Regions from separate parts of the Homo sapiens genome. Here region 2 is linked to region 1. The links come from fine-mapping of genetic effects on gene expression. Tissue or cell type: adrenal gland. Region 1 holds a variant in brackets; the other region holds the start of a gene. All regions are shown on one strand. Distances are between the middles of the regions.

Region 1 (2,805 bases):
AGAAGACCTGGATCACCTTCTTTCCTCTGTACAAGTGGGATAGGCATGTCTTCCCTGCTTCCCCTTTGGGATTATTTTGGCCTAAAACAAGAGACCATGTTTGATTTCACTTTGAAAATTAAATTGTATAAGTTTAATTGCTAATTTTAATAAGTAGCTTGACTATCAAGTTTAATGGGACTCGAAAACTCCCAGCCTTTCCCTTAATTTGGGAGCAGTTATTCTGATCACAGTGCTGTGTGGGGAAGGGTGGGGCTCCACAACCCACCCGTGCTTCCTATGCACTTACGGGGTCTACGTGTGCATCCAGCTGCCAGTGCTGCATTGCACCGAACACGGAAGAGGAGCTTTCACGAGGAGCATGGGCCTTCCCCTTCCTTCCCTTTGCTCCCACTCGCTCTTTAAATGAGCTGTGTTACCGGGCAGAGAGGACTTAGGGAGAGCAGCCGAGGGCGGTGGAGCCCAACGGTGTTTGCTGGGGCCTGGCCAAGCAGAAAGCAGAGGCCTGTCAGGAATGATTAAAGAGCCCAGTGTTGGAAAAGAACAGGCCTTTATGTTGGTGGTAAAATGATTAGAAAGTAATAAGAAAAATGCAGGTTTGGACAGAACATTGTTTTGTTTAATCAGTTCTAAGCCCAAATGAAAAAAAAAGTGCCCTTAGAAGTAAGTTTAAAAGGGATTACAACATACATGTGAACATTTCTCCCATCTAGTTTATGAGTTTAAACTTTAAGGGGAAGGGGGCAGATAAGTCTCTTATTTCTTGGTGTCCAGTGAGGCAATTTCTCTAATGGGAACCAGAAGCAGAGAGAGTAAGAAACATGCTGATGTGAGCAGGCACTTTTGAGGTATAAGAAACTGTCAAGTGATTATTCACACTTCTGTTGGCTGCGCAAAATCCGGATATGGTGAGATCTTTCCAGAAGCCGAAGGAAAAACCTGGAATCTGATCACCTTGTGAGGAGAAATAGGGATCTGAGGAGAATTAATTCTGTTGTTTTTAAAGTGGTGTTTCTGAAGATAAACTGGATGAGGACAGCATTGTGGGGAAGCGGGGGAACCAAG[A/G]TTGCATCTTTGATGTTCAGCCAAGACAGAGTCAGGGCTACAAATATACCCAGTGGAGCGGCACTGGCAAGGAAGGACACGCAGTCTAAGGAGAGATGGTCTAGGGTGATGCTGCTTTTTCATCTTCACAATATTGTATGCACTGCGTGAATTTCTCTTCTAGAGGAAGGAAGACAGATTTTGGAAAACTTTTCCAGTAATGTGTTCTATGGATTTCATCCTTTTTTGCAACATTAACCTTGGGCATTTGTCAAAGATGGAGGCTGTTTGAATATTTTTGAAAGATTGTGACATGGGCTCAAGTTTTCTTGATACACAAGCAGTCTCAGCTGCCACAGGTGTCTGGTGGGAGGTACTGGCACGCGGGTGACATGGAGGGACCTTGGCTTCCCTGTATCACCAAATGCCTGAATTACCAATTAAGAGTAGAGTCATTTTTTTAAATAGATTTATGTATTTCTTTTTTCTTTTTTGAGACAGAGTCTCGCTCAGCCGCCCAGGCTGGAGTGCAGTGGCGCGATCTCGGCTCACTGCAACCGCCGTCTTTCATGTTCAAGCGAATTCTCCCGTGTCAGCCTCCCGAGTAGCTGGGATTACAGGCATCTGCCATCATGCCCGCCTAAATTTTGTATTTTAGTAGAGATGGGGTTTCACCATGTTGGCCAGGCTGGTCTTGAACTCCTGACCTCAAGTGATCCGCCCGCCTCAGCCTCCAAAGTGCTAGGATTACAGGCGTGAGCCACCGTGCCTGGCCTAAATAGATTTATTTTTTAGAACATTTTAGGTTCACAACAAAATAGAGATGAAGGAACAGAGAATTCCCATATTCCCTGTAACCTGCCCAACATCCCCTACCAGAGTGGTGTGTTTTCTACAGTTGATGAACCTATATTGATATATCATTATCACCCAGAGTCCATAGTTTACCTTAGGGTTCACTTTTGGTGCTGTATGTTCTGTGGGTTTGAACAAATGTAAAATGATATGTGTCTACCATGATAGTATCATACAGATATTTTTCAATGCCGTAAAAATTTTCTGTACTCCACTTATTCATCCCTTCCTCCCCAATCCCTGGCAATCACATGACTCCATAGTTTTACCTTTTCTAGATGTCTTATAGTTGGAATCATATAGTATGTAGTTCTTTCAGATTGGATTCTTTCATTTAGCAATTGGCATTTAAGTTTGCTCTATCTCTTTTCATGGTTTGATAGCTCATTTCTTTTTAGTGCTGAATATTTCATCCACTAGATGTACCACAATTTGTGTACCCTCTTACCTGCTGAAGGACATCTGCTTCCAAGTTTTGGCAATTATGAATGAAGCTGCTGTAAATATCCTTGTGCAGGTTTTTGTGTGGACATAAGTTTTCATCTCCTTATACCAAGGAGTGTGATTGCTAGAACATAGGGTAAGAGTGTGTTTAGCTTTGTAAGAAACCATCAAACTGTCTTCCTCAGTGGCCGTACCATTTTGCATTCTCATGAGCAGTGAATGGGACCTCCTGTTGCTCCACATCCTCCCAGCATTTGGTGTCATCAGTGTTTTGGATAGGAGGAACTTTCAGGGGAGAAATAATTAAGCATACTGAAGGAACTGGAAAGGACAGAATTCCCCTCCACTCTCAAGAATAACAATGGAAATGCCCAGGGCATCTGATGTTTAAAACTATAGTTCTGGGCATATTTTGGGCACTCACAAGTTCTCTGTGAGAATGTTCAGTTTAAACTCATTGTG
Region 2 (2,805 bases), 54 kb before region 1:
GCTAGGATCTTCTCCCATTCTCCTACTGGATTTACAGCAGCTCCTGGGAATGAGAACTGCGTGAGATATTTCCCTACACAAATTGGGTAGAGATAGCCGGACGCCTAAATACTTTTAACAGAGGTAACAAGCTAGAGCTGGCTTAGTCATTTTGTCCGCAGACCATAGCAAGAGAGTTTTTATTTCTGGCCACGTCTGAGGCCTCACGTCTGGCACCCAAGGCCAGGGCTCTCCCTAATGCCCTCCAATTAACAGAGCTTGGTACTCCAGCAAAAACACCAAACAAACTGCTGGATAATCAGTTAAAAGATCAATCTCATGGAACAAGCAACTGAGATGCTGGAGAATCCAATTCCTTCCTCTAAGAGGAAAAACAAAGACATTTGCATGTGCTGAGCAAAACCAAGAATAAGCAAGAAAACATGCTATTTGAATTCCGTTCAAAATGTCTCTAATAAGTGAAGCAAATTCTGCACATTCTGGGCCTCTGCAGAGAACAAATAGTGTTCTGCCTTTAATGGGTAAAATTATACAATTTGCTTTTAACAGTAAACCAAAAGCCGCGGTGGCTTCGGATAGCATCGCGCTCCCGAGGGCTCCCTCCACGCAGCTCGACCCCTGGCAGTTTTGAGCATTTCGGGGGACGCGCTTGTCCCCACCGACCTGGGAGGGCGCCGGTGCCAAGGCGGCCTGTTTGTTTTCCTGAACATTTCCTTTTGCAACTTTCGCTTCTCCTCTTCCTGCCTCACCGCTGGTGTCTGGGGCTGGGTGGCTCTCAGATTTGTCCCGGTGCGCAGTGCAGCCTGGAGTTACTGATTTGTGACCTAGATCCCCGGGTGTGTCGCCCCCGAAAGTCGGGGGCACCCGCTCTGGGCGCCTCTCCTGCGTGGGCAGACCCGCCGAACTCCGGCTGACGCCCCCAAGGCGCCACCTTTGTGTTCAAGCGTTCCGAGGCGCAGGCCCGAGGGCGGGCGCAGGAGGCAGGTCCGGGGCCCCAGCTGCAGCCCCAGCTCCTTGGGTCCCGCCCGCCGCCCGCGCGTTCCCCCGGCAGGGGGCGCCGGCGCAAGCCTCGCTCTGCCCATCGGGGCGGGCGAGCGGGGACCCTGCCTCCTGCGCGCTCGCCCGCGGTCCGCCCCCCGCGCTCGTCCTGGCGGCCGGCGGGACGCCCCAGCCCGCGCCAAGGAACCTCCCCAGCCAGCCCTTGCCGTGGCCGGAGCCGAGCGGCGCATCCGGGCCGGAGAAGAGGACGACGACGAGGTCCTCGAAGTGGACCCGTTTGCGAAGCGCCAGGGAGAAGGAGGAGCGGACGCATCGTAGAAAGGGGTGGTGGCGCCCGACCCCGCGCCCCGGCCCGAAGCTCTGAGGGCTTCCCGGCCCCCACTGCCTGCGGCATGGCCCGGGGCTCGGCGCTCCCGCGGCGGCCGCTGCTGTGCATCCCGGCCGTCTGGGCGGCCGCCGCGCTTCTGCTCTCAGTGTCCCGGACTTCAGGTAGGATCTGGCGTTCCGGCTTGTGCGCAGACGGTAGCTCACGGCTCGCTTGGCCAGCCCTTCCGCCGCCACTATGCTCCCGGCCGCTGCGCCGGCGCCCATGCTCCTGAACGAGGGGCGCCAGGCAGGGCCATTCGCATCTCGCCCGACGCCGCTCCCGGCCCGCACCCCGGACCCCCTCGGGCTGGTTACAATAAGCCGCGCTCTGGGGACGCCTAAGTGTTTCCAGAGTCTGGGGGCGGGCGGCGGCGGCTGGGAGCCTCTCGGTGGCGCTTCCCGAGGGTCGCGAGTGGGAGTGCGAGTGTGAATGTGAGTACCCGCCCTGGGCCCGGGACCCGAGTCCGCAGATGTGCCCCGAGGGTCCCAGGACCCGGGCTTCCTCCCCGAGGTCTTCCTCCTTCAAGGGCACACGGCCCCGAGTGTCCCCCGTCTGTCTCGGAGCGTCCCCCCACCCCCAGGGCGGCCTGATGCCTGGCAGAATCCTGGGGTGGACGTGGCCCCGGAGAAGCGGCTCTTGCGGCGGGGGTGGGGGCGCCGGCGGCTCCCGGGTCCTGACTTTCCCAGCCCGCGGGCCGCTTGATGGAAACGGGCTCTTTGGCATCCCTTTTGTTGGTCCCTGAAACCTCCTCTCCCCCACCGCTCTGGGGTGGCCGAAGTGGTGTGTGATCTGGATTGAAATGGTTTGTGACTGGGATCGCGGGTCCCTGAGCGGCTGGGGCGCGGCCGCCTTCTGGCCGCGCCGGGGGGACCCCCGGGACCTGTAGGAGGCTGGCGGCGGGAGGGGCGGGGCCCGGCTCCTAGGTGGGTTTCCTCCCGGGGCCCCACTTCCCCCGAGTCCCTGCGCGGTTTCGGCTGCTTGGATCCGGGGCGCAGAGGAACGGCGGGGAGGTTCGGAAGTGCAGCTTGGGACCTGCCTAGGTTGCCTGGAGGAGGCGGCGTTAGCTCTGGCGGTGCAGACTCCGGGAGCACCTCCCGCCCGCGCGCCTCGGGCCGGATTCTCGGCACCCTGCGGGGGTGGAGGAGGGCGGGCGGGGCCTTCAGGCCCAGGAGCGCCAGAGACCTATGGGGTTCGCCTGAAGCCCCCGGAATGTGTGAGACACTTCTTACTAGTAAATGGGCTTCAGTATCCCCCATCCCTGCACTCCTGCAGGAAGGTGAGAATCGGGACAGTCGCAGGCTGGGAGACGCTCTGCTTTTCCTGCGTCCTGCTGGGAGCTGCGCGCTCCAGGTATCCTGGCCTGCCGCCCTAGCCGGCCCAAGGTACGCGAGTCAGAAAGGCTGCACAGTCTTTCCTGGGGGGGGGTTTTAGTTTAAGCA

The links. PIP is the estimated chance that this variant, and not a neighbour inherited with it, causes the effect.
Region 2: it holds the start of ROR2, and the variant in region 1 is fine-mapped to the expression of ROR2 in adrenal gland (GTEx, PIP above 0.99).

The regions. Positions count from the first base shown.
Region 1 is chr9:91,894,577-91,897,381 of GRCh38, reverse strand. The region is part of intron 1 of ROR2 (receptor tyrosine kinase like orphan receptor 2); the gene reads left to right. Among named protein-coding and RNA genes, the nearest start is that of ROR2, 54 kb to the left of the region's middle. RefSeq lists an enhancer at 2,276-2,805. The variant A/G (reference allele first, on the strand shown) is at 1,066.
Region 2 is chr9:91,948,550-91,951,354 of GRCh38, reverse strand. ROR2 (receptor tyrosine kinase like orphan receptor 2) reads left to right here and starts at 1,127. Exons shown (of 9, transcript NM_004560.4): 1 at 1,127-1,488. The coding sequence starts at 1,392. RefSeq lists silencers at 554-848, 962-1,141 and enhancers at 1,335-1,834, 1,835-2,336.